2 separate regions of the Homo sapiens genome follow, and region 2 is linked to region 1. Evidence: fine-mapped expression QTL. A gene starts in region 1. The other region holds a variant in brackets. All regions are shown on one strand. Distances are from middle to middle.

Region 1 (5,373 bases):
GAGAAGTGTGAAAGGAAAATAAATCTTAGGACTCCCAAATCACTAAGCCAAGGAAAAAGTCAAGCTGGGAACAATGTCAGGCAAACCTGTCCCCCATTTTATTCTTTTCTTCTTTTTTTTTTTTTTTTTGAAATAGAGTCTCACTCTGTCGCCCAGGCTGGAGTGCAGTGGCGTGATCTTGGCTCACTGCAACCTCCCCTTCCGAGGTTTAAGCGATCTCCTGCCTCAGCCTCCTGAGTAGCTGGGATTACAGGTGTGCCACCACGCCTGGCTAATTTTTTTTGTATTTTTAGTAGAGACAGGGTTTCGCCACATTGGTCAGACTGGTCTCGAATTCCTGACCTCAGGTGATCTGCCCGCCTTGGCCTCCCAAAGTGCTGGGATTACAGGCCTAAGCCACAATGCCAGGCCACCATCCTATTCTTAAATAAGATAGCTACAAAGAGAAACAGCTACATACCTTCCTCACAATTTTCACACAAGGAAATTCCTTGTGGACAAAGGACAGACAGAATTTAAAGCCATCCCTCTGAGGCTCACCGGAAACAAATGCATATCTGATTGCTTCTTCTGCCCTATTGTTTATGTAAAAATGTAGATTCACTGAGCTAGACTAAATTGTGTATTCAGTGGAAGGTTGATCAAGGACTCAAAAGAATGTAACCTCTTCTGTTTCTTATCTACTTATAACCTGGAAGCACCACCCTTTCTGCAGCTTGGAGTTGTCTTGCCTTACCGGACCGGAAGCAATGTACATCCTACACATATTGATTGATGTCTCATGTCTCCCCAAAATATATAAAAGGAGGCTACACCCCCACCACCCTGGGCACATGTTGGGACCTCCTGAGGCTGTGTCATGAGCACGTTCTTAAGCTTGGCAAAATTAACCTTCTAAATTGACTGAGACCTATCTCAGATATTTCGGGTTCACAGAAAGATACGAATTTTACAGCAGCTGGAGACTAACGGAGTCCCAAACGACATTAATGGCCAGAACCACTTATTTGATTTCCCTCATGGGTGCCCATGAGTAGGGTTTGATAGACCTACCTACCCATCATCTTCAGGAGTGCCTCGCCCTCTCCAACACTTAGCACTTCTCTAGTCAACCTGGGTTTGACTAAAGAGGCTCAGAAAAAGGAACAGATGGACGAGGTTTGAGGCTGGGATTCTACAACGAGGCTTTGCTAAAACTTGCTGAGGGATCTTAGGCAAGTCATTTCTCTCTCATTATCAGTTTCTCCACCTGGAAAATAAGGTGTGTTGCATCAGGCTCTGGAGTTATACGGATGTGGGTTTGAATCTAGGCACTGACATTAGCTGTGTAATCTTGGGCAAGTGGTTTAGCCTCTCAGGTTTGATTTCCTCATTTCTAAAACAGGGATAGTACTAGTACCTACCCCATGGGATTACTGGGCTAATGAAAAGAGATAATGTATGCAGAGTCCCTGGCTCATAAAAGTTATTTTCTCCGATTAATTAAATAAGTGAATATGTGTAAAGTGCTGAAGACAGCGTTTGACACTTAGCGTTTTATCAGTCTTAGCTATCATGATTTTCTTATTCTAGTACATAGAAAGTCCTCAATAAGTAACAGTAGTTATTATTATTTTTGGTCACATGTCCCTGTGTTTCCCTCCAAAACCCTAACCATCCCCAATTCTGGTTTTCTCCCCGCATGCAGCCCAAGGGTTTTCACGTCCCAGTGCGATTGTCTGGGCTGTTTCCTCCGCCTGATGTTCCATTTCTCCTCCTCCCGATCTCAGATGGCTTCTCCTCTGGGATTCCTCTGGTCTTCATCACTCCCTCCTCCCAGGCAGAAGGAATGGCTCCTGGATTTGTGTCCTGCTTAAAAAAAAAAAAAAAAAAAAAAAAAAAAAAAAAAAAAGAAGTCCATATAGCACTTAGTTCTTTGTGCCTGGCGGTTGGGTTAACTCTTTCTGAGCCTGTCTCCGAGAGTGGCGGCCCCCGGGGGACGGCGCTGGGTGAATCACCTCTGAGTGTCACCCAAGGCGTCTGGCACAGTGCGGGACAGTAAACGGGCCGCTGTGCGGAGAGGGGTCCAGTTTAACTCCTAGAAGCCCGAGTCCCCGACCCTCTACAGGCCGCGTCCACCACAAATCCCTCCTCCTGGGGGGCTCGGATTCTCCCTTCCCCGCGGTCTCCCTCACCTGAGCCAGCCCCGCTCCCCCGAGTCTCGCCAGCTCCTCCCCGGCCCCTCCCTCCAGCCCCCTCCGGGCTGGAGCCTCCCCTCCTCCATCCCCTGGCGGAGGCCCGCGGGGCTGGAGGCGGAGCGTCTCGGCAGAGGGCTGGGAGCCGGGTGGGGAGGCGCGGGGCGAGCCGGGGGGTTCCAGACGCGCCTCCACCGCCGGGCAGTGGGCAGGTATGGCTGAGGGCGTGTGAGCGCCGAGCGCTAAGGGCCGCCGCCACCATGCCAGGGGGCGCAGGCGCCGCCCGGCTCTGCTTGCTGGCGTTTGCCCTGCAGCCCCTCCGGCCGCGGGCGGCGCGGGAGCCTGGATGGACAAGTAAGTGGCCAGGCGCGGGGGGATGGAGGCTGGGTGGCCCGGAGACCTGGGAGTAGCCTTGCGGGTCCGGAGCGCTGGGACCGCGACCCCTGCGCCTCCCGCAACTCCGCGGGGCCTGCGCCCCCGCCGTCCCCAGCCTGGGAGCCCGGGCTTTGTTCCCACGTTCTGCGCCCTGGGAGGTGGCAGAGGTCGGGGAAACCCGGCGCAGCCAGAAAACAGCCGGTCCGCTCACTGGCTAGCCTTCCCTTCTCGCCTTCTCCTTCCTCTGTTTTTCTGCTTTTGGCTTCTCTTTCCGCCGTTCTCGGGGCTTATCCTCCTCCGTTTTCTCACGGTCCCTCGTGTCCGCTCCGCCTCTCTCTCTGTCTTTCTCTCTACCGCCCGCTGCACTCGCCAACGCCGAGCATCCCGAGCGCCCTGCCCGTGTGGCCTGGGAGCGGCTTCCTGGGACCAGGCTCGGTGCCTGCCACACTGGTGGGGTAGGACATAAAATGCCCGCGGCAGACTGTGGTAGCCTTGGCTAGGGGATGGCTCGCTGGGTATCTGCAGCCACACACTTCGGATCCCCGAGCTGGCAGGAGCCCTACTGAAGGCCAAGTCAAACGCACCCATTTCACAGATGGGGAAACCGAGGCCCACAAAAGGGAAAGGACTTGCCCAAGGCCACGCCACGGGTTGAGGTCCGCGGTGGCACTGGAAACCAGGGCTCTCTTTCCACGCCAACCCGACGGCCGCCTTCTTTGGTCCTCAGTTTCCCCTTCTGTGAAGCGAAGGGGTCTGACTCGATGTTTCCAGCTAAGATGCCGGGTGATGTCCGTGTTTCTCAGGACTAGTTTCCCAGACACCAATCCCCTCCCCGGCTCCATCCCTCGGGGGCTATAAGCAGATTTCGCGGAAGGCTTGGTCCCGGGGGGCGGTGCCCGGGTTCTCTCATTATGACCGGAGAAGGCTTAGCCCTGGCTCCACCGCTGCAGACGGGCTGGGCTGACTCCAGACTGCTGCTTGGGGGACCAACAGTCAGCGTTTTCAAATAGAGCGAGCACCGGCGGAGCGAGGGTGGGCTGGCTGGACCCCCGGGCCGCCTCAAACCCAGAGGCTGAGAGCTCTTCCGACAGTTCGGAACTTCCAGGGGCCGAGGTCGGGCGGTCCTCCCAAAGGGCTCAAAGGAACCGCCCTTTGAGCTGTTGTTCCGAAGGGGAAACTGAGGCACAGAGGAGGTTCTAGGGTAGCACCAGGCCTGTGTCAGTGCTTAGTGCAGGAGAAAAGCATGAAGAAAGACAAGGAAAGCTAGTTACTGCTCCTAGCACAGGCGCCTTCTCTGAGTTTTGAGTCCTTGGAGAACACTTGCTGTAGAATATCTGGGAAATAACGAAAAGTGTAAAAGAAAATGATCTGCAACCCCCAAATCCACAGTTGCTGTTGATATTTTGTTTTTTTTCCCCTCCACATTCTTTGTGTGTTCCTATGGATATATATTGATAAAATTGGAACCATACCCATAAGTACAGTTTCGTGTCTTGCGTTTTTCACTTCACACCATGAGCGTTTTCCACATCATCAAATTCTCTGTAAAACATGATTTTAATGACTCTATACAAAGTTTTCAAAAGTTAAAAACACGACTCATACAAATGTGGCCAAGATTTATTCAACTCATTAATGAGGTAGCAAACAGGAGAGTAAAGCTGATTCAGGGAGCATTAGAAAGGGGTGATACAAGCATTGGAGAAAGAATGTTGAAATCATGTGGCCCAGGGCAGATGCAGAAATGGTGGATGCCCCATGAAGCAAACCATAATTCTTGGTTATCTTTCTTTTTTAATTTCCTTCCTTCATTCCTTCTTTTCTTTCTTTTTTTTTTTTTCAGAGTCTCTATCTGTTGCCCAGGCTGGCATGCAGTGGCACGATCTGGGCTCACTGCAGTCTCTGCTTCCTGGGTTCAAGCTATTCTCCTGCCTCAGCCTCCTGAGTAGCTGGGCTTATTGGCATGTGCCACCACACCCGGCTAGTTTTTGTATTTTTAGTAGAGACGGGGTTTCACCATGTTGGCCAGGCTAGTCTCAAATTCCTGACCTCAGGTGATCCGCCCGCCTCGGCCTCCTAAAGTGCTAGGATTACAGGCGTGAGCCATTGTGCCTGGCCAGGTTATCTTTTTACTATGCTGAAATCACTTACATCTCTGTCAGACAGAATTCTATAGATATATATAGATTATATAACTTCACAGAGTGTAGCTTTTAATCAATGGTAAATAAAAAGTCAATGGTACATTCCCCTAGATAATGCAGTAATCCATGGGTGAGTCTGTTAAACAATGCTCTGATACAACATTGAGAAGACATCTTGCTTGCTCTTGCCTTATTTCCAAGTTTTGGAGACCTTTTCTTAACATGTACTATGTTCCTCTTTTGGTGAGATTTTAGATTGCTTTCACTATTTTTTTACAATCGTAGATATCATTTAATTCCATTAAATGCTCCATTAAATATTATAGAATTCCTTTTTGTTTAAAATAATATAGACTTATCAGAGCCACCAGGGCAAGAGCGATGCTTGTCTTTTTTTTATTTCTGAGATGGAGTCTTGCTCTGTCACTCAGGCTGGAGTGCACTGGCGCAATCTTGGCCTCCCAGATTCAAGGGATTCTCGTGCCTCAGCCTCCTGAGTAGCTGGGATTACAGGCATGCGCCACCACACCCAGCTAATTTTCATATTTTTAGTAGAGACAGGGTTTCACCTTGTTGGCCAGGCTAGTCTCAAACTCCTGACTTCAGGTGATCCGCCCACCTCGGACCTCCAAAGTGCTGAGATTACAGGTTGTGAGCCACCGTTCCTGTCCTGCAGTATG
Region 2 (5,373 bases), 76 kb after region 1:
CTTTCAGAATAAAACAAGAACTAGTCAAGGATGCCACCCCCACCACCATGAGCCCAGAGAGATCAACACAGACCCATCAGAAAGGAGGGAGTGGTATGAACATGGAGGGCCACTGGGGTTGAGGAATGGCCTGAGAGTGGGCATGGCCAGTTGGCTTAGGTTCTGAGCAGTTGCTCATTCAACAGGCACACTGAGTGTGGGCTACTGTGTCTGGTCCTAGGGTTAGGATGAGTGGCAAAAATGACATAGTTCCTGTCCTTGGGGAGCTGATAGTCTAGTGGGAGAAACACATATTGAAATAATTGCAAAAGAATATATGTACAGTCCATGGCAAGTGCTAGGAAGACAAATGACACAGTGCTCTGAACATATATAATGTGAGGGGGAACCTCCTTGCTTGTGTGGGAGGTGACCTGGAGCCCATATCTGAAGGCTGCATTAGGAGTTAGTGAGGCACGCAGGAGGGAAGGCACATTTCAGGTGGAAGGGGAGCCTGTGCCTTCGTGGGAAGAAATATGGTACATTAGGAAGGCAGGAATACAGGTCTTCCTGGAGCCCAACATGGTGGGAGAATAATGGGAGGAAAGTGTTCTATTCCTTCTCTTAGGGGAGACAGGTGGACAGGTGTCTGTGGTCAGGGGATGGGATGTGGCTCTCCAATATGCTAGAGCCCTGGACAGTTAGGGGTATAAGGTTGATAAACATGAGGTAGGCCTCAGGCAGACCTGACTTGAATTCAGCAGGTGTGTCCCTCGGCCAGCTACTGGACTTGCCTGAGCCACAGCATCCCTGTCTGTGGAATGGGGTCAAGGCTGCCTCATAAGGCTGTGGTGGAGAGATCTGTGGAGCCCCGTACACTTTTCATCAATGGCTGATGGATTGGCCTGTTAATACTGTAAGAGTGTGATGAGGACGCTCAGGGTCACTGGAACGCCTCATAATCTTTTAAAAATCTCAGGCTGGGGGAGAGCAAGGAACCCATGGAGATCTTCTGTTCCAGAAAGGTCCAGGCCAGGAAGGGCTTAGGAAGAGAAGCAGATGGAGAAAAAAATCTAAGGAAACAGACCCAGGAGTTGACATAAACTGTTTGGAGAGGTTGTTCCAGCAGACTCTTGCACCGGCAGCCCCTTTTCATGAGATAAGAAAGCCTAGGAGGGTTGGGGGCAGGAGGGCACCCATGAAAGACAGGGTGTCTGGATGTTCTACTGGGGATTAGAAAAACAAAACATAAAATTTCCATATACTCTGCTAAAAAGTCCATTTTAGAAGACTACATGGTTACAGGGAGAAATACGCATGTTATATTAAGTAAAAAAACACTGTGGATACTATGATTTTGTAAAGTAAGTATAAATATATATGTATGTGTGTAGAAAATGCCTTGAAAAATATTCATACTCAAAATGTAGCTGTGTCCTAGCGGGGCATGGTGGTGTGTGCCTGTGGTCCCAGCTACTTGGGAGGCTGTGGCATGAGAATTGCTTGAACCTAGGAGGAGAAGGTTGCAGACTGTCTCAAAAAAAGATGTAGCTGTGTCCAAGTCATGTTACTAATGATTGTGCATATATATGGTTCTTGTGACAAGTACACATTAGCTTAGTGACGAAGCTGTCACATGATTTTTGAGGTCAAAAGTTTCCAGGCCAGGTGCGGTGGTTCATGCCTATAATCCCAGCACTTTGGGAGGCCGAGGCAGGTGGATCACTTGAGGTCAGAAGTTTGAAACCAGCCTGGCCAACATGACGAAACCCAATCGCTATTAAAAATACAAAAATTAGCCAGGTGTGGTGGGGTGTGCCTGTGGTCTGAGTTACTTCGGAGGCTGAGGCGGGAGAATCGCTTGAAACCAGGAAGCAGAGGTTGCAGTGACCCGAGATATTGCATCACTGCACTCCAGCCTGGGTGACAGATCGAGACTCCCTCTCAAAAAAAAAAAAAAAAAAAAAGAGATAGTTGCTAGAGAGCTGGGGTTCCAGGGGTGTGTGGGCAAGGGTGGGGAAAATGTTGGGGGTGGTGAAGGCCCTCCCCCACTCACACCCACCCCACTGCCTCCCCAGGAATGTAACAACCCCTGCTGCAATGCCTCTAATTGTACCCTGAGGCCGGGGGCGGAGTGTGCTCACGGCTCCTGCTGCCACCAGTGTAAGGTAAGTGGCCCTTTTCTCCACGCCTTGGGCCCTGGCCTGACAGTGGGACCACAGGACTGCTCTGCTGGGGTGGATGGCTGGGGATTTGCCTCCATCCTGGGGCTGTGATGGCAACAGAGTTTCAGAAACACAGAGCGG[A/G]AAAGGTGCCTTGAATAAAATTTACTATTCCTATACTGGGCCTCACTGAATTCAGATCATCCCAGAGGAGGGTGGCGCTTCTTTGGAAATGGTACTTTTTTTTTTCTTTTTTAAAGAAGTATCCAGAGAGAGTGGGCTTGATTTTATTGAGCTCATAAACAATAATAATTATCATCATTTGTATTGACATTAATGGACCTCTTAGTAGATGCCAGGCACTGTGCTGGGAATTTTATGTACGTTATCTCATTCTCTCCTCACAAAAACCCCATAAAATATATGTGACTATCCTTATTTTAAGATGTGGAAACTAGAGCTTATAGGGGATAAGAGGTTTATCTGGAATCAGGCAGTCAGGAAGGGACTGAATCCAGCTTTCCCTGACTCTGGTGCCCACATTCCTAATATTGATGTGAGAGATAAATTGTCTGTTGCTGCTAGTGTTACCGTAGAACCACAATCTCTCTTCCACAATTCTGAAATTAAGGGAGTTCTAAAAGCTGAAAAAAAATGTAAACACATTTGGTGGCAAAACTTGACCTGAATTGACATGAGATGAATTATAGTCTTTTTAAAAAAAAATCACTCCTAAAGTGAATATTTATATTGCATTACAGAAATATTAATATGTTTGATCAGAAGGTGTTATCCCCAGCCTTGCTGGGGGGTTATGTAATATACATATGTAGTTATATATGCGGACATATGTAATTATCCATATCCATATATATATATATATATATATACATACACACATGTGTAATTATATATGTACACACATGTACATATGGACCTATGTATTACAATATCTGCTTTCTAAATCTGAAAAGCCTGAACCCCATCTGGCCCCATCATTTTAGGCAGGAACTGTGGGCCTGGGCTTCTGCCTAGCACTTGCTGAGTGCTCGTTAGGGGCCAGATACCATTCACATACTTAGTTCTAACTCACGTTTAATCACCCATTAGTGGGTTATTATCCTGAGTTGTGGGTGAGTGAGCACACACAGGTTACACAGCAGGTGCCCAAGGCCCCGCTGCCGGTTAAGGAGCTGGGATGTGTGCCCAGGCAGGCTGGCTGTGGGGCAGGTCCTCTTTGCCTCCACCTGCCTCTGGATGGCAGAGGTGTGTCCTGCAGCCTCCTCCTGCATACACCACCCATGCCCACACTTGCGACTGGGCATCCACTCTCAGCAAGCTGCTCAGCTGGCCCAGTCTTGGCCTGAGAGTGGCCGGTGGAGAAGCCTGTCTGCCTTCTCCTGGAAGGACCCTGTGGGTGGGAGGAGTGGCCCAGGAGCAGGGGAGGGGGTCTGTTCTCAGTCACTGGTTTCCTTGCCTGGCTCTCGGAATGTGCACGGCATCTGGTTTGGCTGTGCGTCCCCCTGGGAGGCTGTGCTGGGTCAAGTTCTTCCAGTCTTGGCCCAAGGCCTAAGCATAAGCATGGAGTGGACCCCTTCACTCCACACAAGAATTTCCGTTTGAGCCTCAGAAAGGATTCCCTGGTGTCCAAGACTGACTTCAAACCCTGGTTGTGTGATTTGGGGCAACCTATTAACTCTCTGAGCCTAGGTTCTTTATCTGTAAAATGGAAAGAGTATTAGTAACACCGACTACCCAGGGAGGCTGTAAGACTCTTCGCCCTTTGCCCCAGGTGTGCTGTTGATCAACTTATTGATCTGCAAAGTGGGACAAATAGCAGTATCTATCCCATGGAAGCTGTGAGGATCCCACGAGATACGTGTATGTCACACACTCAGCCCAGTGCCTGGCCCCATAGTGGGGATATATTATTGCTGAGGTGCTTTGTAAACTCACAGATGTTATGTGAATGCTAGTTTTGTGTGTGTGTGTGTGTGTGTGTGTGTGTATTAGTGGGCCTGGCTCCTCTGCCACTTACTATGAGTCTTTGGATGCATCGTCTAACCTCTTTAAGCCTACAGATTTTATCATCTGCAGAAGGGATAATTATATCACACAGGACTGTCATGAAAACTAAGTGAAGTCATATTTGTACTGGACACTTAAGTGGGAGCTGCATAAAAGTAGCTGCTATTACTAAAGCATGTAGGAAACTGTAAATTGTTGTATAGGTATTATTTCTTGCCTCTTTCTTAAGACTTCTATGAAGAGAAAGTGAGTTAGCATTTGTGAAAACAGCTTGAAATTCTGTCAGTATTCACATGAGAAGGCTGAAGGTGGTTTGGGCTAATGAGGTCATGTAAAAAGTGCTGTGAAATCATGGTAATGGAAAATTCTGTTCTATGAGAGTGATCCTTATGAGCCCTTGGGCAACAGGGTTGAGGGTGGGGAGGAGATTGACTGTGTTTTCCTCTCATTCCTTGGCTCAGCTGTTGGCTCCTGGGACCCTGTGCCGCGAGCAGGCCAGGCAGTGTGACCTCCCGGAGTTCTGTACGGGCAAGTCTCCCCACTGCCCTACCAACTTCTACCAGATGGATGGTACCCCCTGTGAGGGCGGCCAGGCCTACTGCTACAACGGCATGTGCCTCACCTACCAGGAGCAGTGCCAGCAGCTGTGGGGACCCGGTAAGGCTCTCCTGGGGAGCACGGCTCTCCCCAGCCCACCACTTCCCAGCCAGCCTCCCCTGGCCCTCAGGGTAGTTTGGAATCTTGGCTTCAAATGGCACCTCTAGATACTACCTCTTTCATCCCCTTGACTCAGGGTAGATGTTCAGGGAGAACCAGAGGACAGTGTTCCTTCCCAGTCCCTTGATGCTTTTATTTCTCAGAGTGGACAATTGAATAAGAGTAATCCAAAAGAAAAATGAGCAGAGGATGGAGACAGAGAAGCAAATGCAAATGGCCCTTAAGCTATGAAAAGACGTTTAATCTCAGTCATATTAAGGGAAAGCAAAGTATAATTATGATGAGGTGAGATTTTTCATATATCAGATTGCAAAGACTGAAAGTTAAGATAATAATAATATAACAACAATAATAATGATATAGTGTTGTGGAGGGTGTGAAGAAACAGGTAGATATAACCACTATGGAAAGCAATTTGGAGATATACTTAGAAATGCAGCTAACACTTGCACATGTATGTGAGGATATATTTACTATGATGTTTACT

Alleles and levels. Alleles are on the strand shown, and positions count from the first base shown. SD is a standard deviation of normalised expression in the study named.
As copies of A replace G in region 2, the expression in thyroid of the gene that starts at base 2,356 in region 1 goes down (small effect, 0.22 SD a copy in GTEx).

The links. PIP is the estimated chance that this variant, and not a neighbour inherited with it, causes the effect.
Region 2: its variant is the best candidate, but not a certain one, in a credible set for the expression of ADAM19 in thyroid (GTEx, PIP 0.73).

What each region holds. Positions count from the first base shown.
Region 1 is chr5:157,572,758-157,578,130 of GRCh38, reverse strand. ADAM19 (ADAM metallopeptidase domain 19) reads left to right here and starts at 2,356. Exons shown (of 23, transcript NM_033274.5): 1 at 2,356-2,528. The coding sequence starts at 2,435. LOC124901121 (a long non-coding RNA gene) reads right to left here and starts at 3,152. Exons shown (of 2, transcript XR_007059018.1): 1 at 2,761-3,152; 2 at 1,521-1,851. RefSeq lists enhancers at 1-341, 342-957, 2,815-2,894, 3,131-3,660 and a silencer at 2,205-2,644.
Region 2 is chr5:157,496,347-157,501,719 of GRCh38, reverse strand. ADAM19 (ADAM metallopeptidase domain 19) reads left to right here. Exons shown (of 23, transcript NM_033274.5): 13 at 2,058-2,147; 14 at 4,631-4,826. Among named protein-coding and RNA genes, the nearest start is that of NIPAL4, 39 kb to the right of the region's middle. RefSeq lists enhancers at 1,550-1,609, 1,670-1,719, 4,724-5,225. The variant A/G (reference allele first, on the strand shown) is at 2,286.